Homo sapiens: one gene and its partners. The protein of the gene in region 1 interacts with the protein of each later gene in a biochemical or structural test. Each region holds a gene or a part of one and is shown in the gene's direction. Other genes may lie near its edges.

What was found.
Region 2: the proteins of PBK (region 1) and PRC1 form a complex in vitro, tested with the Homo sapiens proteins (one study listed by BioGRID).
Region 3: of the proteins of PBK (region 1) and PTOV1, one has a biochemical effect on the other in vitro, tested with the Homo sapiens proteins (one study listed by BioGRID).
Region 4: of the proteins of PBK (region 1) and MBP, one has a biochemical effect on the other in vitro, tested with the Homo sapiens proteins (one study listed by IntAct).

What each region holds. Positions count from the first base shown.
Region 1 is NC_000008.11:27,809,103-27,813,827, reverse strand, and holds the end of PBK (lymphokine-activated killer T-cell-originated protein kinase), read left to right. Parts: exon of another isoform or gene 1-2,660; coding exon of another isoform or gene 2,661-2,693; coding exon 2,694-2,870; exon of another isoform or gene 2,871-3,326; coding exon 3,327-3,523; 3' UTR 3,524-4,204; downstream 4,205-4,725. UniProt on the Homo sapiens protein: Phosphorylates MAP kinase p38. Seems to be active only in mitosis. May also play a role in the activation of lymphoid cells.
Region 2 is NC_000015.10:90,991,530-90,998,744, reverse strand, and holds the start of PRC1 (protein regulator of cytokinesis 1), read left to right. Parts: upstream 1-4,209; 5' UTR 4,210-4,327; coding exon 4,328-4,338; intron 4,339-7,215. UniProt on the Homo sapiens protein: Key regulator of cytokinesis that cross-links antiparrallel microtubules at an average distance of 35 nM. Essential for controlling the spatiotemporal formation of the midzone and successful cytokinesis.
Region 3 is NC_000019.10:49,846,574-49,854,187, forward strand, and holds the start of PTOV1 (prostate tumor-overexpressed gene 1 protein), read left to right. Parts: upstream 1-4,585; 5' UTR 4,586-4,755; coding exon 4,756-4,926; intron 4,927-4,994; exon of another isoform or gene 4,995-5,103; intron 5,104-7,614. UniProt on the Homo sapiens protein: May activate transcription. Required for nuclear translocation of FLOT1. Promotes cell proliferation.
Region 4 is NC_000018.10:77,010,754-77,017,784, reverse strand, and holds part of MBP (Golli-MBP), read left to right. Parts: intron 1-516; coding exon 517-953; coding exon of another isoform or gene 954-971; exon of another isoform or gene 972-4,992; intron 4,993-7,031. UniProt on the Homo sapiens protein: The classic group of MBP isoforms (isoform 4-isoform 14) are with PLP the most abundant protein components of the myelin membrane in the CNS. They have a role in both its formation and stabilization.

The sequences.
Region 1 (4,725 bases):
GAGAACACTACATCTTGACCAACTAGGACTTATTCCAGGAAGGAAAAGTTGTAACATTCAAGAATCAATGTCCTCACTATGCTGTACGTTAGGTCACCAGAACTTACTCATCCTGCATAATGGAAGCTTCGTGCCCTTTGTTAATACTGTACACTTGAGATTTGCTGAGAGTAGATCTTGAGTATTCTCACACACACAAAAAAATGGTAACTATATGAGGTGATAGATATGTTAATTAGCTTGACTGTGGCTATGAGGTCAGTGTTTACATATATCAAACATCAAGTTGTATACCTTAAACATATATAATTTGTTAATTATACCTCAAAGCTTGGGGGAGGAGTCAATAAAATTCACCATATTAACAAAATTGTTTAAGTTCTAGGGTACATGTGCACAATGTGCAGGTTTGTTACATAGGTATACATGTGCCATGTTGGTTTGCTGCACCCATTAACTAGTCATTTACATTAGGTATTTCTCCTAATGCTATCCCTCCCCCCTACCCCATGACAGGCCCCAGGGTGTGATGTTCCCCACCCTGTGTCCAAGTGTTCTTATTGTTCAGTTCCCACCTATGAGTCAGGACATGTGGTGTTTGGTTTTCTGTCCTTGTGATAGTTTGCTGAGAATGATGGTTTCCAGCTGCATCCATGTCCCTGCAAAGGATATGAACTCATCCTTTTTTATGGCTGCATAGTATTCCATGGTGTATATGTGCCACATTTTCTTAATCCAGTCATTGACGGACATTTGGGTTGGTTCCAAGTCTTTGCTATTGTGAATAGTGCCACAATAAACATAAACGTGTACATGTGTCTTTATAGTAGCATGATTTCTAATCCTTTGGGTGTATACCCAGTAATGGGATTGCTGGGTCAAATGGTATTTCTAGTTCTAGATCCTTGAGGGATTGCCACACTGTCTTCCACAATGGTTGAACTAGTTTACAGTCCCACCAACAGTGTAAAAGCATTCCTATTTCTCCACATCCTCTCCAGCATCTGTTGTTTCCTGACTTTTTAATGATTGCCATTCTAACTGGCATGAGATGGTATCTCATTGTGGTTTTGATTTGCATTTCTTTGATGACCAGTGATGATGAGCATTTTTTCATGTCTGTTGGCTGCATAAATGTCTTCTTTTGAGAAGTTGTCTGTTCATATCCTTTGCCCACTTTTTGATGTTTTTTTTTTTTTTTTTCTTGTAAATTTGTTTGAGTTCTTTGTAGATTCTGGATATTAGCCCTTTGTCAGATAGGTCGATTGCAAAAATGTTCTCCCATTCTGTAGGTTGCCTGTTCACTTTGATGGTACTTTCTTTTGCTGTGCAGAAGCTCTTTAATTAGATCCCATTTGTCTGTTTTGGCTTTTGCTGCCATTGCTTTTGGTGTTTTAATCATGAAGTCGTTGCCCATGCCTATGTCCTGAATGGTATTGCCTAGGTTTTCTTCTAGGGTTTTTATGGTTTTAGGTCCAACATTTAAGTCTTTAATCAAATTTGAAAACTACATATCTCAATAGATACCGAAAAAGTGTTTGACAAAATCCAACATCCATTCTTGATTTAAAAGTTAGTTTAAAATCTAGTTAACCTCTCAGCTAACTAGAAATAGAAGGGATCTTAGCTTGAAAAAGGCTGTCTACAAGAAAAACCTGCAGGTATCATACTGAAGTAGGGAACAAGACCAGGATGCCTGCTCTTGCCAGTTTTATTTAGCAGTCCTATAGCCCTAGCCACTAAAATAAGGCAAGAAAATGGAGAAGGCAAAATTGGAAAGGAGACGAAACTGTCCCCGTTTGCAGTTGATATGTTGTTTAGGTAGAAAATCCCAAGGAATCTATAAAACAGCTATAGTGAAGTTAGTGATTACATTTCTGTGTATTAGCAGTATATAATTGAAAATGGAATTGTTTAAAATCTATTTACAAGTACCAAAACCCAAAATATTTCGGAATAAATAACCAAAAAAGTCTAAAACCTCTGTAATGAATACTATAAAGCATCACTGAGAAAATTCAGTAAGATATAACTAAGTGGAGAAATATATGACTGCGGTTTGGAAGACTCAATACTATTAAGATGTTAATGCTTACTAAATTGATCCAGAGATTTAGTCCAATCCTAATGAGAATTTTAGCTGGCTTTTTCATTGAAATTGACAAGTTGACTCAAGTTTAAATGGAAATGTGAGTGGACCTATTTCTTTCTTGGGCTTTAAAAAAGAGCCTATGTGTGATTGGTCCCTTTCCCTTTTCCTTGACATAGCAATCATGGAAGCATAGAAATGGTACTTCTCTCAGCCTAATATTGTTCACAAAATGAAGAAATTCAGGTCTAGAAGTGATCTGCTCAAGGTCACGCAGCTTGCACACACATGTCTTTGAACCAACCCAAGCAAGGCAGTCTGGCTCCAGAGTCTGTAATCTCAACATCCACATTCTATATTCCTACTAATTTGTAAGAGAATTGCTGTTTCTCTACATACCTGCCAACTGACCAGCTTCTTGAATATTTACCAACCTGAAAGGTAGAAAGTAATCCTTATTGAGGTTGAGTGTATTTTTACATTTTCTGGCTACACTGATTAACCTGTGAACTACTTGTTCAAATCGTTCGCCTGTTTCCCTTTGGGTTGCTTGCCTTTTCGTGATTTGTAGCTCCTGCCTTCATAACCATCTTGCTTGTTTCAGTGACTGACCCTGAGGCTTGTTACATTGGCACAGAGCCATGGAAACCCAAAGAAGCTGTGGAGGAGAATGGTGTTATTACTGACAAGGCAGACATATTTGCCTTTGGCCTTACTTTGTGGGAAATGATGACTTTATCGATTCCACACATTAATCTTTCAAATGATGATGATGATGAAGGTATGAATACAATTTCTAACATAAATCCCAATCTCTTCATTTCACACTAAAGATTATATAATTTTATCTTTCTAAGATATGTATTAGTACTGATGACTGATTTGGTACCACCAAGGTTTAATCTCACACAAATGAGACATAGATTGAGAATAGGGAGAAAAATTGAGGCTATCCAGAGAAGCAAAACATTATCTTAAAAACTCCCCTTTCCTGAGAAAATGATTGATTGGAAAACTATCACAGGAAGGGTAAAAGTAGGGGTCGATAACCTATAAATCCAAGACTAAAGCAAATCTACTTGATGGCAGGACAATTGAAGACATTTCCATTCTGTCTGTGGCAGAATGGAAAGCATACTGGACCATAAATTCTTGTTTCAGGAGAAGGGTGAGCTATTAAACTTTTCCATGACATAAAGTGATTTTGTTTATTGTTTCAATCTCTAACTCCTTCAAGATAAAACTTTTGATGAAAGTGATTTTGATGATGAAGCATACTATGCAGCGTTGGGAACTAGGCCACCTATTAATATGGAAGAACTGGATGAATCATACCAGAAAGTAATTGAACTCTTCTCTGTATGCACTAATGAAGACCCTAAAGATCGTCCTTCTGCTGCACACATTGTTGAAGCTCTGGAAACAGATGTCTAGTGATCATCTCAGCTGAAGTGTGGCTTGCGTAAATAACTGTTTATTCCAAAATATTTACATAGTTACTATCAGTAGTTATTAGACTCTAAAATTGGCATATTTGAGGACCATAGTTTCTTGTTAACATATGGATAACTATTTCTAATATGAAATATGCTTATATTGGCTATAAGCACTTGGAATTGTACTGGGTTTTCTGTAAAGTTTTAGAAACTAGCTACATAAGTACTTTGATACTGCTCATGCTGACTTAAAACACTAGCAGTAAAACGCTGTAAACTGTAACATTAAATTGAATGACCATTACTTTTATTAATGATCTTTCTTAAATATTCTATATTTTAATGGATCTACTGACATTAGCACTTTGTACAGTACAAAATAAAGTCTACATTTGTTTAAAACACTGAACCTTTTGCTGATGTGTTTATCAAATGATAACTGGAAGCTGAGGAGAATATGCCTCAAAAAGAGTAGCTCCTTGGATACTTCAGACTCTGGTTACAGATTGTCTTGATCTCTTGGATCTCCTCAGATCTTTGGTTTTTGCTTTAATTTATTAAATGTATTTTCCATACTGAGTTTAAAATTTATTAATTTGTACCTTAAGCATTTCCCAGCTGTGTAAAAACAATAAAACTCAAATAGGATGATAAAGAATAAAGGACACTTTGGGTACCAGAAGGTGTCTCAGCATTATTTTATACTTCATTGATTTGAGTGTTGTCATTAAACTTGAGTAAATGTGAGGTTTCTTTCCCTCTCTTGGCCTTATTTTGCTAATCTATAAAGTGTTTTGGATCAGTAGTTTCTGTAAGCCACAGTCCCCTGGGAATTTTCCAAATTACTGAATTGCCAATGTAGGTGGTATACCTACATTTGGGTGTAGACAGAATTTTAAAAATTACCGACACAGGGCGTTCTCAGAAACATTAGGAACAACTGCACTCTGAACTTTAAAAATGCCTAGAAATCACTGAAGGCCTTTTGGTATAAGATTGTACCAAGCAATAGGACACAACATTAATTTGCATATATTCCATCAAAATAATGTGACAAGTAAATTGGAAGTTGTCTTAATTTGTAGAAAAACGTATGTATAATTTTGCATCCTGATACTCAATAGGGTCTCTTATCCTCACTCTGACATGTGTCACTCTTCTTTGCCAAGCCAACAGAGCAGCTTCTCCAGGGCATTCTTT
Region 2 (7,215 bases), on another chromosome or scaffold:
GCAGGAAGAGGCATCCTTTGCTAAATCCTGTTTGAATGTCATTGTAAATAAAGCCTCTGCTCTCAGATGTAATACGTTGGTCGTTCTGGACACGCACTTCCATCTTTATTAGTGAAAGCCCATTGGAGCTTGCTACAGGGGCTTCCTGTGCTTCTTGGCCTGGACTTTGTAGTGGCTCCAGGCCTGGTCTGGTTCTTCCCTGTAAAAATCACTCTACCACTCTGTACCTGAGTTTCCTCTACCATAAAATGAGGGAGATGGCTGAGGTGACCAGCAAGCACGTTTCCAGTTCTAAAATGTTGTGATTCATTACATTTTTGAGAAAATGACTTTGTTGTTTTAATTTAAGGAGGCACTTCAATTTTAAGCGTTTGTTTCTTATTGCAGAATGAAAGATTGTGTGCCATTAGAGCCATTTCAGGCATCAGCAAACAGTGCTCCTATAAATGTGCCAGCACCCTCCTCATTACTGATGCTAGTAGCCTTTCTCTCTCTCTTTACCTTTTAAAAATGATGAAATATAGGCCAGGTGCTGTGGCTCATGCCTGTAATCACTGCACTTTTGGAGGCCGAGGCAAGAGGAACGCTTGAACCCCGGAGTTTGAGACCAGCCTGGATAACATGGGAAGACCCCGTCTCTACAAAAAATAAAAAAATTAGCCGAGGGTGGTGGCACACACCTGTATTCCTAGCTACTGGGGAGGCTGAGGTGGGAGGATCCTTTGAGCCCAGGAGGTCGAGGCTGCAGTAAGCTGTGACCTTGTCTCAAAAAAAAAAAAAAAAAGAAGGAATTACAACCACCTATATTAGTGGCCTCTTTTCAGGCCTCTTCCAACTTGATCTCACTGATGACTATGCTTTCCTTGAAATTGTCTTATTCAGCTTCCATAATACCCTTTCTTTGTCCTCCCACAGTCTCTTAGGTTGTTCTTTGATTACTCCTCTCTGCTCATCCCATTTGCTGACATCTCCCCTCTCTCTGTCCTTTGTTGTCATCCACTTCCAGATCTCAAGCCTTCATCTCACTCCTTAGCGCCACACAAGTATTTCCTACCTGGTCATTCCACAGGCACTTCAAACTCAGCATGTACAAAATAAACTCATGAGTGGAAGCTCCTGTCCCTACTTGAATCCTTTAATCTGCTCTTCTTCCTGTATTCCCAAACTTTGTTCAAATGAGCAAAAAATTGTATTCTTGACCTCAGATTTTTTCTTTCTATGCCCCACCTTCAGCTGGTTCCCTTGTGCTATTGGTTCTTATTTCTAAATGTCTCTAGTTCATCTTCTCCTCACCATCCCTACGACAGAGGTCTTTATTGTCTCTTGCCTGGGTTTTTGCAAGAGTGTGCCTCCCAGCTGCTCATTCTTCCATCTGTTCCCCATTCCACAGTGCTGCCACTTACTAAAAGGAAGAAAGAAAATCAAAACCTGAGTTACTGGATCATCAAAAGTATTCTTCCTATAGAATAATGATCATTCTGGGCCCCGCACGGTGGCTCACACCTGTAATCCTAGCACTTTGGGAGGCCGAGGCAGGCAAATCACTTGAGGTCAGGAGTTTGAGACCAGCTTGGCCAGCATGGTGAAACTCTGTCTCTACTAAAATATAAAAATTAGCCAGCTGTGGAGGCGCGCACCTGTAGTCCCAGCTACTCATGAGGCTGAGGTGGGAGAATCGCTTGAACCCAGGAGGCAGAGGCTGCAGTGAACCGAGATCATGCCACTGGACTCCAGCCTGGGCAACAGAGCAAGACTCTGTCTCAAAAAATAAATAAATAAATAAGAATAATGATAATTCTGTATAAGAATATATTCCAAGGAAAAGGCATTCCTCAAGCATCTAGCTAGAATTTTGAGTGTTATGTCAAGCTAGTGTGCAAGACCAAAGACACTGCCAACAGGGCTGTTAATTCACAGAAAGAATAGGTGGCATCAGAAAAAGATTAAACAGTGGCAAAACATTGCACTTCCATCCAGTAGAAATATATGACCCTGTAATAGGATTTTTTTTTTTTTTTTTTTTTTTTTTTGAGAAAGGGTCTTGCTTTGTCGTCTAGGCTGGAGTGCAGTGGCGTGACCATGCCTCACTGCAGCCTTGACCTCCTGGGCTCAAGTGATCCTCCCACCTCAGCCTCCCAAGTAGCTGGAACTACAGGCTCATACCACCACACCTGGCTAATTTTTGTATTTTTTATAGAGACAGGGTTTTGCCACAGTGCCCAGGCTAAGGTCATATATTATAAACGCGTATTACACAGTGTTTTACATGCTGCGTTTATGCTCTGAATGGATATCTTTGCATCAGTTCTATGACTTTGTTAGCCTCAGCACCTCAGTGTAAAGGACAAGAGAGAAAAAATTGCCTTTTCTTTGGATACTTCATAATGCTGGTGCTAAGAACAAGTATGAAGATCACAAATTTGTGAAGCTTTCTGAAAAGCTCTCCTGTTAATTTAATCAACAAAGAATGCAAGTAAATTTTAAAAGTAGTGCTACCATCTACTCTATTAGTGGTGTCAATGTTAATCACAGAGTGCAAGGAAATTGAAAAAGTGGTGCCTGTCGCCCACTGTGTTGGTGCTGTGAATGTTTGGCATGCTGCTGACAAGTTAAAAAGAACATGGAAGCCGGGCGCGTTGGCTCACGCCTGTAATCCCAACACTTTGGGAGGCCGAGGCAGGCGGATCACCTGAGGTCAGGAGTTCAAGACCAGCCTGGCCAACATGGCAAAACCCCGTCTCTATTAAAAATACAAAAAAAAAAAGTATCCAGGCATGGTGGTGCGTGCCTGTAGTCCCAGCTACTCGGGAAGCTGAGGCACAAGAATTGCTTGAACCCAGGTAGCGGAGGTTGCAGTGAGCTGAGATTGGGCCACTGCACTACAGCCTGGGTGACAGAGCGAGACTCCGTCTCAATTAAAAAAAGTAAAAAGAACATTGAAAGCACTAATGAAGTTTTTCTGAAAATAAGAAAAATATGGTTCTGAAGGTGAAGCAAACAAGCATCCTTTACCTTTAGGGAAAAGGCATATGAAGAGGATTCACTTAAGTTACAGTTGGCCAATAAACACGAAAAATGTGCAATTTCAATTATAATCAAGTGCCAAACAAGGAAATGCCAGTATTATTATTTTACCTACAAAATGAGCAAAGATGTTTAGAAGTACAATAGAATTCAGCCCTGCTGAGGGTAACAAAAGGAGGGTACTTTTCCGGTGAGGCTTTGTGCAGAAGGCAAATTAATAAAGGGAGCATTCAGTAATTACACCTCTAGGAATCAGCCGTACGAAAATGCAGGATGCATTTATAAATACATACATACACAAAGATTTATGTATGAAGATATTCAGCCCAGCCTTATCTTTTAAATTATCATCTAAATATCAATAGCAGAATGGGCGAGATATCTACACACCAGGATTCATGCCACCATGCCACCATGAATCACTGGGAAAAAACGGTGATATATAAGCATTTAGGGATGTAACATGTTCATCGAGGAAAGGAGGCTACAAAAGTAATGTCTATTTTGAGTTTTAAATTTTTCATGTAACGATTTAGAAACTCATCTAATTTGATAACGTGACTTAGGCAAATCATTCAAATCTTTTTGCGTTTCCTCTGCAATGGCGATTGTGGAGGTTAAATGGGATAACTGGCGTTGAAACGTTCCAGGCCCATGAGCAGGACTCAATGTTCCTTCCCTTCCCCTTTAGTGTATGGCTTCTTACATCTGGGGAAGAGTCCCACCAAAGATCGATTCCAAGCTTCGCTTCTTGGATGAGCGAGGGAAACTAGGCGCTAACTTACCTATTCACCCCCGCGCCCGTTCCCGGCAGCCGGGACTCAGGGAAGCCAGGTAGCCGCGGTGCTCTCAACTCCCTCCCCGCCCGCGCACTTCGAATCCAAACTGCGCGGGGCGAGGCGGGGCGGCGCTCCGATGAGGTAGCTGGCTTGGGAGAGGAGTCCCTTGAGGCTGCCGCCAAGCCAGGGAAGCGGGAGGCGCAGGCCACGCCCGGCCACTCACAGACAGTGACGTCATCCCCCGCCGCCACTCCGGCGCTTCCCAGGCCCTGCTCGCGAGTCCCCACCCCGATTGCGCACCCGCGACTTCAGCCCGAGGGGCGGGGATTTTCTTGGAGCGACGGGACGCGACGCCAATCGCGACGAGGCTTCGCCCCGTGGCGCGGTTTGAAATTTTGCGGGGCTCAACGGCTCGCGGAGCGGCTACGCGGAGTGACATCGCCGGTGTTTGCGGGTGGTTGTTGCTCTCGGGGCCGTGTGGAGTAGGTCTGGACCTGGACTCACGGCTGCTTGGAGCGTCCGCCATGAGGAGAAGGTGCGGGTTGCGGGGAAATCGAGGGGACGCGGGAGGGAGCGACGCTCGTTTCGGCTGCGGGGCCTGTTCAGGGGTGCGGGACCCGTGCGGGGTCCCGGGCCTAGATCGTCACGGCAGTCGGCGCCGAGGGAGGCCGGGGGCGCTGAGGGGCAGGGTCTGGAGGCGGCGAGCCAGTGCGAGGGCCGCGGCGGTGAGACCTGACGCGCTGTCCGCCGGCGGCCGCAGGTGCCCGCAGGCTCAGACGCCCGGGTGGGAGCCGAGCGCCGGTGCCCGGACGCGGCAGGGTAGTCGAGGCCCGGGGCCCGGGGCGGCCTCCACCCAGGCGGTCAGCGCTGGCGCTCGGACCCCACCCTCCCCGCCCGCAGCGTCTCAGGTGCCGCTGCTTGGCGCAGATGACTCGTTGTAAACCTTCTGTGGTCGTGGCTTTTCTTTAAAGCTGTTAAGTTTATTTATCGTTGTTTTTCTTTGTTTTATTCTTTTTTTTTATTTTTGTGGAAACGCGGTCTATGTTGGCCAGGCTGGTCTCGAACTCCTGGCTTCAAGTAATCCTGCCACCTCGGCCTCCCAAAGTGTTGGGATTACAGGCGTGAGCCACCGTGCCCGGCCCGTTGTTTTTCTTTATATCTGGCCAGCGGTGTTAACGTTTTGTTTGAATTGGAAAGATAGCTTTGTTTCTTTGCAAGTTAAGAAACGGATTATGGAATTCTTTTCCGGTCGTTTTAATAACTTCCTAGGCGGTGTTGGGGAGGGACTGTCCGACTTGAAATCGGGACCAGACGGTGACACTGCCACTTACCAACCTTGTGACTTCCAAATATTAACTTTATTTTCTAAAAGTTGTGGATGCAGTTTTCTGATGATACAGCGTTAAATAATGTGTAGTTTTTGGTGGAACTGATTGTTCTAAGGCTTTGTAAGATTCTTCATTTCATGATCACTAATTCTGATCAGTCTTTTTAAAATGCTTGCCCTCAGAATAATGAGAATTGAGTGCCAACATGGTAAAACCTTGTCTTAACTAAAAATACAAAAATTATCTGGCCCTGGTGGCGCGCCTGTACCCCCAGCTTTTCAGGAGGCTGAGGCAGGAGAATCGCTTCAGCCTAGGAGGCAGAGGTTGCATGAGCCGACATCTCGACACTGCACTCCAGCCTAGGCGACAGAGTGAGACTACGTCTCAAAAAAAAAAAAAAAAGTCCATTAACAGTTTATGAATTATGTAGGCATCTCCTCTATCAAGGGATTGAATGAAGCAGGAGAAAACTTACCCTTTAATGTTGGTTCCAGGCTAATGGATATAATTAACTTTTTTTTTTTTTTTTTTTTTTTTTTTTTTGAGACGGGGTCTCACTCTGTCGCCCAGGCTGGAGTGTAGTGGCGAGATTGCTCACTGCAGCTTTGACCTCTGAGGCTCAAACGAAACTCTGGCCAGAATTAATTATGGTTATCGATCCCCGAAACAGGTTGAACTGGAGATCAACAAAGCTCCTTCTCTGGAATGCTAAGAAAAAATAGGGCAGTGGATCAGTGAAGGCTGCCTGAAGGTAGAAAATAATTTAAGGACCACTGTGAGATACCTTCCAGTCCAGTGATTTATGTTCAAGACTGGAAAAACTGACTCATTTTACAACCTTTTTGTCCTTGAGTGGTAGTCTTTGTATGCACTCTTGATTTTTTTCAGTGAATCTAAAAAAAAAACTCAGACTTGCTGCTTTTAGGGGATTATCTGAAACAATTTAGCCAGGGAGTATTTAAGTGTATCATGATAATTGTTCATAATGATTGCTCTGAAGCATCTTAAGATCATACAACTTTTTTGAAATGTCACGTTATTCATTCAAAAAGACTTCTTGGGCCTGGCACAGTGGCTCACACCTGTAATCCCAGCACTTTGGGAGGCCAAGGTGGGAGGATGACTTGAGCCCAGGAGTTCAAGACCAGCCTGGGCAACATAGCAAGACCCTGTCTCTATTTAAAAAATAATAATTTATACTAAAAAAGAAAAGAAAAATACTTCTTGAATGTTTGTTATATACAAGGAACCATTGCAAGTGTTGGGGATATAGCAGTGAGCAAAAGTGACATCCCTGCCCTCACAGAGTTTATATTCTAATAGCAAAAGAGGAGTGTAATAAATAAGTTAGTCTTAAATGGTGGTAAGTGCTATGTAGAGAAATCAAGAGGTTAAGAAGTACTGAAGGTGTAGGAAGGGGGGTTGTGGTTTTAAAGAGATGGGTCAGGAAAGGCCTCCCTGAGAAGGTGATCTCTGAGCAAAGACCTAAGAAGGAAAAGGGTGAAGCCATGCAGCATGGGGGAAAAGAGATCTAGGTAGAGGAATCAGCAAATCCAAGTGCCCTAAGGGGAGATAGCGCCTGGTATGTTCCAGAAAGAGCAAGGAGGTCGCTGTGACAGGAATAGAATGAGCACTGAGGTCAAAAGAAATGGCTTTCAGATGGAATGGGGCTCCATAGGTCTTTGGAAAGTCAGAGGCTTTTCCTTAGAGTGAGATGGCAAGTCGTTGGAGGGTTCTGAGTAGAAGATTAGGACTTGGGGCTCCTGTGTTGACAATGGACTTAAGGAGGCCAGCTTCGAAGCCGGGAGACCAGTTAAGAGGCCCCTGCCATACAGCAAGAAGTTGGTGGTGGTGACCTGGACCAGGGTGGGGGTGGTAGTGGTAGCAGCAGAGGTCAGGAGGAGTGAGATTCTGCCTGTCTTGTGTAGATAATGCTAATGGCGGGCATATAAGAAAGAAGTGTCAAGGATGATACAAGATTTAAGTTTAAAAAAAAAATTAAGTTCAGTACAATTTGAATGTTAGGAAGAGTGAGAAATGTTAGTTTTTAATTTGAAAATGATCCTCTTACAGGAAGTGTCTCT
Region 3 (7,614 bases), on another chromosome or scaffold:
TTGTAGAGATGGGGTCTTGCTATGTTGCCCAGGCTGGTCTCAAACTCCTGGGCTCAAGCAATGCTCCAACCTCAGCCTCCCAAAGTGTTGAAACTACAGGTGTGAGCCTCTGCGTCTGGACACACACGATGATGACAAAGTTGAAATACCTAGAGTTTGCAAAGCATGTATCAGGCAGACCTTTAAAAAAAAAATCAGCCATAAACTATTTTGTAATTGCAAAGAAAGAAAAGAAAAATCCAAGCCAGAGATGATCTTACTCCCATTTCTTAGCATAAAGCATTTTATTATCTTTTTTATTTGTTTGTTTTGAGACGGAGTCTCACACTGTTACCTGGGCTGGAGTGCAGTGGCACAATCTCAGCTCAATGCAACCTCCGCCTCCTGGGTTCAAGTGATTCTCCTGCCTCAGCTTCCCAAGTAGCTGGGATTACAGGCACCCACTACCATGCCCAGCTAATTTTTTGTATTTTTAGTACAGACATGGTTTCACCATGTTGGCCAGGCTGGTCTTGAACTCCTGACCTCATGATTTGCCCGCCTCAGCCTCCCAAAGTGCTGGGATTACAGGTGTGAGCCACCGCACCCAGCCTATTAGCATTTTTTGAGACAGAATGTCGCTCTGTCGCCCAGATTGGAGTGCAGCTCACTGCAACCTCCGCCTCCCCGGGTTTAAGCAATTCTCCTGCTTGAATTGGAGGATCAATCAGGAGACTGTATTTGTATTCCTGAGTAGCTGGGATTGCAGGCGCCTGCCACCACGTCTGGCTAATTTTTGTATTTTTAGTAGAGATGGGGTTTCACCAGGTTGGCCAGGCTGGTCTCCTGACAACAGGTGATCCACCTGCCTCAGCCTCCCAAAGTGCTAGGATTACAGGCATGAGCCACCGTGCCCGGCCAGTATAAAACACTTTGTCCATGTTGTCATTGTGTCCTAGCCTATGTCATCCAACCTATATGTACTGCCAGTTTGTTCTTCTAGGAAACTCAGACTTGGTAGTTGATTGGTTTAACAAATGTTGGTTAAACTGGGATTATTTGGGAAAAAAAAATTGTGTATATCAGGAAAGGCCAGATTACCCCCAGATTGCAGTGGCTTGAAACAGCCAAGGTGGATTTTGTCACTCGTGCTGTATTGAGTGTCAGCTTGGAGCCCGTGCGGACAGATCATGAAGGTTGCCAATGGACATAGTAAAGGCAGAGGGGTCTGGTCTTCCATTAGCAATTATGTGCTCTTGCTGAATTCACATGTGTCACTTCTGCTCATATCTCATTGGCCAGATGTAATCACATGGCCTCACACCTTACTGGCCAAAATTAATCACATGGCCGCACTCAAGCTAAATGGGGTCAAATGCTGGCCAAGTGTGGAGCTAGAAATATATGGCAAATAGCACTAACGGCCATCTTAACACTTTAAACATCTTATTTTAACCAAGAACATTTAAACAGACATCTCTTGTACGTAGGACCAAGACCCTTTCTTTCAGTATTGGTCTCCTAGTTAGCACACGACATTACATTCTTGTTTTTGAGACAGGGTCTCACTTTGTCACTTGGACTGAAGTGCAGTGGTGTGAACACGGCTCACTACAGCCTCAATCTCCTGGACTCAAGAGATCCTCCCACCTCAGCCTCCTGAGTAGCTGGGACCACAGGTGCATGCCACCATGCCTAGAAAATTATTGTTGTTTTTGTAGAGGTGGGAGTCTCACTGTGTTGCCCAGGCTGGTCTCGAGCTCCTGGGCTCAAGCAATCTTCCCACCTCAGCCTCCCAATGTGTTGGGATTACGGGCATGAGCCACTGCGCCCAGTAGAACATCACATTCTTGTATAAGCTCCACCCACAAACCACAATGAGTCATTTTTTTAAGTGGCTTGAGAACCTAAAGACATTTATGAAACAAACTGGGGGCTGAGTCTTCCTAGGTTTTTATAAGCTTTTTCATTAAATAATTTACAGTTGCTTTACTTGTACCTAACTTGGCAGCATTTTTTTTTTTTTAAGAGATGGAGTCTTGCTTTGTTGCTCAGGCTGGAGTTGCAGTGGTGAGATCTCAGCTCACTGCAACCTCCACCCCCTGGGTTCAATCGATTCTCCTGCCTTAGCCTCCAGAGTAGCTGGGACTACAGGCATACACCACCATGCCCGGTTAACTTTTGTATTTTTAGTGGAGACGGTGTTTCACCATGTTGGCCAGACTGGTCTTGAACTCCTGACCTGAAGTGATCTGCCCACCTCGGCTTCCCAAAGTGCAGAATTACAGGTGTGAGCCACCACGCCTGGCATGTTTTTCTTTTAACAACTCCCTTTTAGTCTTTCCAAAGCAAGCAATCTGGTTTGTGTATAAACAACTGTCTTGCATTAATTTCATTAGTTTGATAGTAAATTAAACAAGAACTTCTGGCATAAACAGGTTTGGATCAAACAGCTACCTTTCAGGAAGTAAACAGCTTGAGAGATGGAAGTGGAATTGCTTAGTCATAATAGTAGCCTGCTAGCCCCAGCAGTGGGCTTCACAGATGAAAAGGAAAGTGTCTTTCAAGTTGGTGGACCGAGTTAAGTGAGATGGTTTCAGAGAGTTTTGTTGCAGTATTACTGATAGAATTTCAGCCTACATTTTCATTTCACTTTCTGACATGAGTTCCCATTTTGCTCACTCTGGAGTACACCCTGGTATACCGCTCTCCATGCTTATACAATTCAGGGCATTCAAACTCACGTGTGTCCTGATGGGTTCTGAGGGATGGGAAGGCATTAACAGGTAGAGAACAGGAAGGATGGGAGAGAGATTTTTTGGGGGGCGGCAGCAGGGGCCACAGTACCAAGTTTGGATTTAATTCTAAAGGCACTGGGAAGCCATTGGATGGTTTTGATTATTGTAGTGACAGAGAAGGCAGCAAGAGTTAGGAGACGTCACCCAGGCAAGAGATCTTGATGGTTTGGACCAACAAGAATGGGGAGAAGTGAGGATTCCGGGAGATTAAAGCAGCTCCTGTTTTTTCTCCTTCCTGCTGCCAGGTTGTCCTCACATGGGTGATTGACAGGGCATTGGAGGTACCTGTTGATAACTAACTTGCAGTTTGTGTTCAGGGAGCACTGACTCCGTTTGGCCACAATGCAGGTTGGATTTGGGGTTTAAGGCTGGGCTCCAGTCAGCCCTCGGGAGCCCCTGGGCAGGAAAACATGGACAGGCCTACGGGTTCTTCTGCCATTTCACTGGCCACTCCTCCGTGTCCTTTGCTGGTTGCTTCTCATTGTCGTGACTGCTAAAGGGATGAGTGTCCCAGTCTCTTTGTGAGCTCATCCAGTCTCCATTCAAACACTGATGACTCCCGAATTTCTCTCTCCAGGCTATGACATCAATATCTATCTACATTGTTTAGTCAACATCCGAAACAGAAGTAGGGACTCCGTCTCTAACCTCCTACAGCTGTGTCTATTTCTCCTCTCTACCTTCACTCGACTCCGCCCACACTGGCTCCCTTTTATTCCTTCTACTTTCAGGATTTGTCTTTGCTGTTCTGTCCTCTTTGCACACTTTTCCAGCCATCTGGAATGGCAGGTTGCTCACAGGTCGTTTTCTTGACTTCCCTTGCTTGCTAACTTTACCTCGCTATGGTCATATCCCATCGCCCTGTGGATGTGCGCTAGTTAACACTTAGCACAGCCTGTGATTATGTCTCTCCCCAGTGGACCGTGGGGCCTGTGAGGGACGTGGTCTGATTCGGTCGTCGCCGAGCACAGAACTGGACAGGGTACTCATAACAGATTTTTGTTGTTGTTTTTAAAGAAAAGCTAACATTTGAGTAGTGACTGCGCCAAGCAGTCAAGCACAGCCCCTCGGGCTCGATCCCCATAACCACTCTAGGGTTAGGTATTACCCACGTTTAAGGAACAAAAATCGAGGGAAAAATCTTATACAACTACTAGTAAGTAGTCATTCCATTTTAGCAGAGCGAATGAGCGAATCCACGGAAGGCCGGGGAGCGACGTGAGTGGCGAGAAGCTTGGAGTCGCCAGGGACGGCGGGCGGAGCCTGGGCGCCGGGGCTAATGGGCGGAGCCTCCAGGGACAGCTGGCCCCGCCCAGGCCGCGCGGGGCCCGCTGGGAGTTGGAGTCCCTTGCCCACCTCGCCACGTCACCGACTGCAAACCTTCAGCTGTCTCAGGCTCGGGTGCAATCCGTACCCTCAGTGGGTTCCCTTTCAGTGGGTTCCTTTGTCCCCAGGCCCATTATTCCGTCCTCCCCTCTTCCCTGATGTATTTTGGCGCGGTCTCCTGGCTCTGCGGGCCCAGGGCTCCGGATGAGGTCTCCCGCCGTCCCGACCCCCGCAAGGGGCCAGCTTGGTGTCGCCTTCGTTCTTCTGCCACCCCATTCGGTAGGGGCTCCCGTTCCCGCCACGCCCCCTGAAGTTGTGGCTCGCGCGTCTTCCCAGGACTCCCCCGCGCCGGAGAGGCCCGCAGGACCGCCGAGCCCACACTCCGCTCCCGCCCGGGCCCCGCTCCCCCGCGCCGCCTTGGTACGCTCCGGCCACGCCCCCTCGGACGCGCTTGGTACGCGCCGGGCTCCCCCGCTCGCCTCAGTGGTTCGGCCGCGGCGACCCCACTCCGGCGGCGCGTCCCCCGAGCTTGGTACGGCTCAGCCCGTCTCCCCCGAAGCCGCGCGCCCGCGCCCGCGCCCCTCAGTCGGTGGAGCCCGCAGCCCCCCTTGTGGCCCGCGGCAGCTCCCCGCCCGCTCGGCCCGCGCCCGCCATGGTCCGTCCGCGCCGTGCCCCGTACCGCTCCGGCGCCGGGGGCCCCCTCGGGGGTCGCGGCCGCCCTCCGCGGCCCCTCGTGGTGCGCGCCGTCCGCTCGCGCTCCTGGCCTGCCAGCCCCCGAGGCCCGCAGCCTCCGCGGATCCGGGCCCGCTCGGCCCCTCCCATGGTGAGCCCCCCGCCCTTTTTCCAGAGCCTTCCACGGCCCCGCCCCCCCAGCCCCTATCCCGGGCTCACGCCTTTGTCCGCAGCCCCCGCCGCTCCGGGGTGTCCCCTGTGGCCCGAAGGGTGGTCCCGCCCGGGGCCGGGTTCCCCCGTGGAGCACCCGGTGGTTCGCGCCGCGCTCTCCCCTTTGTTGCGCGTTCGGGCCGGGGTGGGGGGTTGGGGGACGGGGGCGGGGCGGGCTCATATTACTGCTGACTCCGCGGCCCGATTTAAACGCGGGCTGGGGGCGGCAGACAGGCAGCCGGCACGCTCGCTTGTTTTTCCTATTGGAGAGTTGCTCGCTCTCCGGGCAGGAAACCTGGAAATGGGGGCGGTTTTGGGGGACAGCGGCGAGGGAGGGGCCCGCGCTTTGTACCAGCGCCCCCAGATGTCGCACCCGTGGGCGTTCTCCCCTGGCGGCCGCTCCGTGCCCGTGGAGTGCGCACCTAGAATACGCGCCCGCGCCCACATGTGGGATGCTTTGATGGACTGCCGTGAGCCCAGACCTTAAACGTAAACATTCAGCTTCGCAGGTACTTTGGGCTGCACACGCTTCTCCGGACCCAAAAGATGCACATGCTTTTCAGAAACCGTAAGGTTTACCTGGGGCTGTAAAACCGCACATCGCGACTTTGCACCGTGCACACGCTTGCCCCGATGTGAGATTTCCCCTGGGTTCGCGCTCGGGTCCGCTTCTTAAATACACTGCCTCAGCGGTGTGGATGGCACAGAGCTGTGGCAGCCCTACTGAAACCTTAAACAGGCTTCCTGGGGTCATAAACATGGATACCGAGACTTAGATCACCTCCCACAACTTAAACGTACCCCTTCACTCCACTGCCTTCGCCCCTTCCTGCAGCATTCGCATCTAGTTGTTCAAAAGTGCTTTCCGGGTCCTCAGACATGCACCCCAAGGTTTTAAACCTCAGTGCAAGTACTAGATGGGCTTCCCTGTGCAATAGGGATGTCAGGCGCGCAGTTTTGCACACGATTGCCAAGATGTGAGATTTACTTTAGGTTGCACCTTAACCGTCGTTTTTAAATATGATCGTCCCATCTTGATGTGCTGCTCCTGCTGTGGAAGGTATCCCTGGGTTTTAGGCAAGCATATGTGTTCTTTACTATGGCTCCAGATCCCAGCATATTTGAAGTCCTGAGTCAACCTGCTCTCCTAGACAAGCAGACATTAAGTATGTCGCTTGGGCTCTTAAGTGCGTTCTCCTGACTTTTACCCATCTTTGTGGCAGTAAATGCATACGTGTCACTGTATATGCGGACTAGATACCTCAGGTCCCAGCGCCATAAACAACTTGTATGTTGTAAGTGTACCCTCATCTCGAAAGTCACCTCCAGCTGTGCGTTTTAACTCATCTCAGATGCTGGATGTCCGGTATGGTGCCTGAAGCCCCCGGGGCAACATCCACTCTCTGTCCAACTCATTCTAACGCCAAGATACTCAGGTTTTCTATCTGATCTTCTGACGACTGCCCAAAAGTCAGAATCACCTGCGTGGGTGAAGAATCACCTGCGTGGGTGGAGAATCACCTGCGTGGGTGGAGAGCAAGTTTGTTCAGGTTTTTCTCTTTTTAAGCACTCACAAAATAAAATTTTTTGTGTTTGCTAGTATTCTGGAAGGAAAGATCTCCTTGTGCTTCATAGAAAATTTGGAAAATACCTGTTTGTAATAAGATAAAAATAAATCACCCTTATAATTTGTTTTCCCCCGCCTGGAGGCGCCTATTACGGGGAAACTCTCGTGGGTTTCCTGCTGCCAGGCTGTTTGCGGAGCTTTCCCTTGTTTGCTTTGAGATGTTTTTGGTTTTAAAAAACAATAAGTGAGGTCAGGCTTGGTGGCCCTCGTCTGTAATCCCAGCACTTTGGGAGGCCGAGGCGGGCGGATCACTTGAGGTCAGGAGTTCGAGACCAGTCTGGCCAACATGGTGAAACCCCATCTCTACTAAAAAAAAAAAAAAAAAAAAAATTAGCCGGGCATGATGGCGCGGCTTGCAGTGAGCGAGGTTGCAGTGAGCTGAGATCGCACCACTGCACTCCAGTCTGGGAAATGAGTGAAACTCTGTCTCAAAAAAAAAATAGTAATAAAAATAGTGGGGAGAGTGCCTGTGAGTAGCATTTGTGGCGTTGCTTGGCTTTATTGCTAGAACTTTCTCTTGGTGTTCTACATGTTTTGGTCTGTGAGACCCCTCTGGGGGTGGTGTCCCAGCTGTCTTCCAAATGTTTCCCCCTTTTCCTCGCTGTCTTTCTCCTGGATGGTTTAGTCCCCTCTGTGTTTCTTGTCATCTCCTTCCTGCCTCCCCCCGGGGTCAGACTTATAAGGCCAGAGAGGTGGGCACTGGCCTGAGCCAGAGGAAGGAATTGAACTTTGGGATGACAGGGAGCTTTAGGAGAGTTTCAGCCTGGGAAAGACAGGGCAAGCTGGTGTGTGGGACAGACACAGCGCAAGCCGGCTTGTGCCTGTGGAGGCTGCAAGGAAGCCCTGGGCCCAGCCTGGGGCACGGGGAAAGCCCCCTACAGCTGGCTTCTAACTTGGGTCTCAAGAATCGATCAGGCGCACAGCTGGGGCAAAGGCTGGAGGTGGGGCTGGCTGAAGGCTTCAGGACTCTGCTGGGCCAGTGTCAAGGTGACAGCAGGCTCT
Region 4 (7,031 bases), on another chromosome or scaffold:
TTGAAACAATTCTAAATGCCCCACTTCTTTCATGCATGAATTGCAAAAAGATGTGGCAAGTTTTGTTTCTACCAAGAAAACTAAAAACACCTTTTGTCAAATAAATGCTCCTTGCATATTTAACTTATGCACCAGTGGCCTTTTAAACAGTCAATGTCCCATCAAGGTGCCTGCACATCTGGGCTCTCCGGGAGCAGCCATGGCAGCACCCGGGAAGAAACGCTGATGTGGCTGCTCTGCATGCTCAGATGACTTCATCGGGAAGCCTGGGTGCATTTTACGCTGGGTGCCAAATCTCGAGTAACTGAGGAATTCCCAGAGCCTTCTGAAACACAGAGCTGCAATAAGGCTGCTCCATCCAGGTTAGCTCCATCCTAGGCCAAGGGCTTTATGAGGACTGCACATATTCTGTGGGTTTTATAGGAGACAGCTAGGTCAAGACCCCTCAGAGAAAGCTGCTTTGTCCGGTGCTCAGCTTTGCACAGGCCCGTATTCATATCTCATTGTTGTTTGCAGGAGAGGCAGATGCGAACCAGAACAATGGGACCTCCTCTCAGGACACAGCGGTGACTGACTCCAAGCGCACAGCGGACCCGAAGAATGCCTGGCAGGATGCCCACCCAGCTGACCCAGGGAGCCGCCCCCACTTGATCCGCCTCTTTTCCCGAGATGCCCCGGGGAGGGAGGACAACACCTTCAAAGACAGGCCCTCTGAGTCCGACGAGCTCCAGACCATCCAAGAAGACAGTGCAGCCACCTCCGAGAGCCTGGATGTGATGGCGTCACAGAAGAGACCCTCCCAGAGGCACGGATCCAAGTACCTGGCCACAGCAAGTACCATGGACCATGCCAGGCATGGCTTCCTCCCAAGGCACAGAGACACGGGCATCCTTGACTCCATCGGGCGCTTCTTTGGCGGTGACAGGGGTGCGCCCAAGCGGGGCTCTGGCAAGGTGAGCTCTGAGGAGTAGAGGAGTTTTAGTTTAAATGGAAAAAGCAAAGGAGAAATCAGTAGGTGAACTCAGCCATTAGAGGAAGAACTGGCACGTAGCCTCTTGCTGTCTAAGGTCTCGTTCCGTGCTGGAGAATGCATATGAGCCCAAGAGTGTGGGCCTGAGTGGCTGCTTAGGACGTTTTCGTTTAACTCACCCCCTCTTTTCCTCACAAGGGATGGTGGCCGGGGTGTGGCTCAGGAATGTAAGGACATGCTGAATTCTGGATCTCTAAGGGTGCCTGGACATGGGCGTTGCAGAAAGAGAGCCACATTCTCAGGGTCTCTGGTGGTGTGTGCTTGCGGACTTGATGACTGATGTTGCCTCTGCAGCCCACACGCTGGGGTTCAACACTGGGTTATGCTCGTTTTTTCCTGGAGTCAGTGCTGCTAGCTTCATGTTGCTCTGCGACAATCATAGGATTGAGGTCGAGGAAGACTTTTGAACAAACTCCTCAATTTAAATCCGCCTTGAGCAAACGTTCTCTGTGGTCTGAGAAGTGGAAGGGGGGAGGGATAAATGAGTGTCTATGAATCAAAGCTTTATTATCTTGTGATTCCATTAATTTGCATACAGAGTCTTAGAAGTTTCTTTATTCAAAAGCAAATGTGGATAAAAATGTATTACAAAAAAAAAAAACTCTGCTATGGGGTCCAGAGTCTAGGAGTGGTTTCTGCAGTTGATTGTCAGTGGAGAACCTGTGGCTGCTGGTTCATCAAAGCGCTGGTCCCTGAGTGCCATTCAGATTGCAGATGCAGTATTTTACGTGATGTTTAGAGTGTTTGGTGGTTGTGTAATTTTGGAGAGAAAGAAGTTTTTCCCAAAAAAGTCCCTAGTTTATTGGGTGTTCTCACACAACCTGTAAGATGAAGCTGTTTTTCTGCCTGTGTGCAGGGCTGATTCTGGAATTCCAGAAGGCCTTGTGGGAGCGTAAAAGGCTTTTGAATAAAGTGTGGAACAGAGCGCCTCATTCTGATAACATGCAATCATAAAAACCATAGGGCAACTTGGAGTTAAGGAGTTTCTAGAATTTGCTTTAGTCTCCAACTGCAATTCTTTATTGATCATGAAATTGTTGAAGAGAAACACAAATGTCAGTTTTACCTTTCCTGTGGGCGTGAAAGCACATCGAAGTTTCAGGCAACTGTTAACATCTCTACCATCTGTCTGAGTTGAGATTTCAGGTTGTGACACTTGCCGTGACTTATTTGTAAATGACATTTTGTGTGTCTTAGATACTAATGGAATTCATATTCTGGCTAGTTCTTTCAGTGCATTTGTAGACATGTTCTTTTCCTTTGTAGCAGTCCTCCCTCACCCTGAAATGTTGGTGTTCTAACCGATTTCTAATGCTAATTTCAACTGGAAGCACTTTTTCAAGCCCAGCTATCAAACCACACCAGACATGTATGGATTCGGGTTGCCCAATAAAGCGTTGCTATTATGTAAGCATCCCTCACGCATACAGCATCACCAGTTTTGAAAGCTTGAACTATTCTGCTTACTTCAAGGTACAGAAAAAAAAAATGTACTTAAACTGTGCAGAAAAGATGAAATCACTGGATAATATGTATTATAAAATAAGCTTCATGTGAGTGACACTGGTTTAAGTTGAAATAAAATGGTGAAAGCATTGATATCAATCATTGTGACTTTATCTCAAAACAATATTGACACACATAGATGTTTTTCTTCCTTTATGGTAAGATTACAGCCTTTATTGTCTTAAATCTCTTATACTCTTCAATATTTTCAAAGAAAACATTCTAGTCTCAGAAATAGTCCATCTCTTTGCAAAACAGGGCTGGCCAATTATCAAGGACCCATAAAAATCAAAACACTTTCAAAAATTTTAAAAATAAAAATAATTTTCACATGATTGCTTTAGGAATTTTGAAGTATCCATTCTTTTCACTATGGAGTGTTGAATATAGAAGATTTTTTAATGAACAGGCTTGCCCTTTGATGCCAAAGGCAAAAAATAATAATAATAACATTTGCACGTGTGATCACAGAGCAGCTGTGAGGCATCCCGGGGGAGCGCACGCAGTGGGGATGTGATTGCTCCACTCAACTATTTTATCACAAAGTGTTGTAAACATGGGAGATGAAAGCTTAACTCTCTCTACACCCAGCTACAGACCCGCAATGGCCCTAAAAATCTGGGGTATTCATTGGGTGGGCTGCCATGGAGGAATTTTTGGTTTTGTTTTTATTTTTATTTGTTGTTCTGTTTACAAATCAGGAGAGCCCCTGTTTTTATATGCTAGGAAGGTCCTTGGGATAGGCCGAAGAGGTGTGCAAACGAGCAGTGGAAGGCCCGGGCCCTGTCTCTCAGGACCACGGCGGCCTGCCCCACACACAGTTCTGCTTCTCCCTATCTAGAACGAGGTTTTCCTGGCAGATTCCTGCCAGACTCTGAGTGGAGCCCCCCCATGACCCTATAAAAGGGGCTGTTTGTCCTCCTCCCACCCTCCTGTGCTCTTCCTCCCTCCCCTTGAGGGCACATGGCCGCTGGTACCACATGTTGGAGCGGCCGCCCCCGAGCCCGGGAATGCCCTAACAACACCCATGCTTGTGTTGCTGGGAGCTGACATTCAAGAAAAGTGCATTAAAAATTCCTTGAGAAGGCATATTCTTTTGAGAGCCGTAAATGAAAAGTGCATTCACGGAGAACATGCTCCTTTGTTGTGAGAGGAAAGAAAGGACTGTTGTTGCCTTTAAGGAACAGGTTTCCCAGTTCCCCGGAATGTCAGGGTCACATGAGGAATGGGTGAGCACTTAGGGCCAAGATTGTCGTGTGCTTGGCCCGGCAGCTTCTCTCTAAGTGACCTCTCCAGCATCACTCTGTGCCAGTGCTCATATCTGAGGCCACTTGAGTGTCACGAGGCAGAGCCTGGAAACATTAGCTTTGGAAACCGTTCCTTCCTTTTTATGTGGAGGAAGTAAGGTTTCACAAGACACCTAAGCTGGACATGGTGATGTGCCACTTGGATAGTTCCCAAAGCAGAAAGCAGCCAGGACATCCCAGTACCCCACTTCTCCGTGCCGTGTACTTTTAGGGAGGTTTTCGAAAGCTAGCTTCTTACCGATGATTTTGTCTATTTTTCTGTTTTATGTGAAAACCTTCATTTATAACCTGCTCTTCTCAGTGTTCTTCTATTCAGCATTCAGTATGACTTCTATGCCTCTAATTGCGACTGTATGGAGAAGAACTGTTTGTCATTCAGTGCCGTGGGATATAATCAGTCCTGTAAATTCATCAGAATGTTCTGTTGCCTGATTTTTTTTCCATTGCATTTTAATTTCATTAAACATATTTTAGTTCTACAGTAACCTAATTCCTCATTGTTACCATGAGATCCTAATTCTGTAGCTGTGTTCTGTAATCCCATGGGGCGTGTACCATTTGGAGACACATGAAGGATACAGTAGACAGCACGGAAGGCAGCAGCAACACACAGGGGTGTCCTCCCTCCCCAGAGCCCAGTGTGCACACAGAACCAAATTCAATCTCATTCATCGTGAGCTTGCATGGTAACTGATCCAGCCACTCAGTACCTCCATTGGATAAGAGATTTGGCCACAGATTCTTCTAGAGAAAATCCAAATGTGGAGGGTGCATTTGTTTCTGCACCCAAACAAATACCTTTTGAGATTTCTTATAGGCATTCCTCTCAAAGTCTCATTACTCTGATCAGTTATTGATCGGAGGCTACCCTGGCTCAGTCACCAGCTGCTCACTGTGTCCTTCTGTGGTCTCAGGAGCTGCAGTTGTTGCTGTTGTATGAATAGACGATAGTTAATTAGACTGGATGTGTCTGTACTGGCAGTGATTTTGCAACTTCCTCTGTATAAGCGATACATTTGTAAATCATGGGAATGTATTTGATGGTAATTGCCTGTGGTGGTTGTATCATGATTTAATTTTATTATGAGCTTTTGGCTTTATATATTTTTCTGCCTTTTTATGCATTCATTAAACAGTTTAACAGACCAAGGACAGTGTACTAATTGCATGCGAACTTCTTTAATTTGTCGTTTTTGGTTTGGTTGCCCCCACCACGTCAGTGTGCTGTGTTGCCGGCATTTTTGTGGCCTGGTGACACAGCTGGCAGGTAAGTGTGAGCACCCGAGCTCCTGCCCTTCTGTGTGGGAAGGTCACAGTTGCTCACTCATCTGCTTTTACTACACAGAGACATTTTACTGTCTTCTCTCACCTGACCTGTGCTTCTGTGTGGGAAGGTCACAGTTGCTCACTCATCTGCTTTTACTACACAGAGACATTTTACTGTCTTCTCTCCCCTGACAGTTCGGTGTTCTGGTCTTTCTATGGTGACTATTCTGATTCTGCCTGAAGTTTCTTGTGTTTCTCTCAAAGCATCATCCCGCAAATGTTAGGGAGGGTGGACGCTGAGCAGATCCCACTGGCAGGTGCTGTCATGGACACAGCCCGCCCCACCAGCATCTCCTGAATGAACGTGCACATGGGTGCCAGTGCCCACAGGGCCCCCCGGGAGCTCACACACAACGGGGGTCATGGGAACCTCGAGACACTGAAATGAGGGGATGGTGCTGGCTCTCTGAAAGATGATAATGAGTGTATGAGATGAAGCTGAAACTTGGGGTCTTTGAGAAATTAGAAACAAGAGTAAAGATAAGTGATTGGCTTGGATGCGGTCCTGCCTTTCATGTCCCATCAGACCCTCGTCTTAACTCATCTCCTCCCTTTAAACTCATTTGCATTTTAAAGCATTCATTTCTCTCATCGTTGATTTTCCTTTGATAAAAAGTCTGGACATTTGATAACAGGCAATTCTGATCGGTGAATTAGGAGCTTGGCTTGACATCTGAGGGAATAGATCATCCTTAGAAAAAAACACACAATAGCACTCGTGAAAATCACTTAGATATTGATACAAATTTAAGAAGTGTGGACATTTCCTATCAAACCCTGATTCAATGTTTTTAAAAGTTTTTTCCTTTATGGCTATCAGCACACTCTTAATGCTCTGAAATCATCCTACTTCATAAAAACGTAGTAAAAAAGAAGAAACAGCTAAAGAACACTGAACTCTCTTGAGGGAGCCCCATACAAGCGGGCTTAGCACACACAATTTCTCCTAAGAGGCTATTCTTGCCTTTCGTCTTCTCTGGCCCTTGCATTTGTCCTCCCTCTTCCTGGCTCTGGGAGTGGCAGGCAGCCGGGGTTACAGGTTGCATTTCCTGAAAACCATCAGTGGGATGTCTTATGGCTACCCCAGCCACCTGCCTTCCCCATGAGTAGACAGGGAGTCAGTAGAGGGGCTTCACGCCAGCCCACCAGAGCCACGAGAACATGCCTCACAGTGATGATCTTCTTTGTGAAGAAGAGCCATTGTAGGAGATGGAGGGAAAATTAATGGAAAGTTCTTCGCTTGTTGGCCCTGTACATAGCGTACACTTGCTCACGCTCATGGACACCAGCTGATGGGAGTCACTGCTTATGAGGACAGCCAAGTCTCATCAGCACAGCAACTCCCGCAGGCTTATCCACGGAGACCTCCTCTAAAGTGAATACTCAATTTACTTACCTTTAATATCATGAATTAAAGTCACCAGAAATTCCTGCTAACCTAGAAATAGCCTCTCTCATGCAGGGAGAATCCATCAGGAGACGTACAGCTAAGCACACACTCACCACAGATTTGCCTCTGAAAACCCCGGTGTGTTCACTTTCCATAATACTTCTAGAATGCTCCCACATTCTTCAGTGTCGGAACTACTCTATTCTCATGCATACTCAGCTGCTAACCTGGTTAAAAGAATCCATTTCATCTGCAGCCAATACATCTCCTGAAACCTATTACGCTGATTTCATCTCTTGACCACTATAAGTCTCCTCTTTCTCTTCTCTCTCTGTCTTCATTTTGCTGTAGCTGATAGTCAAGAAATAGACATTTCTTGCAGGGCACTTACCTTGGTCCTATAATAATAGTCTTTCAACTGCAGCCCTCAAAGTTCATTGATATAGCAGATACTCTCGTGTAACTGACAAAG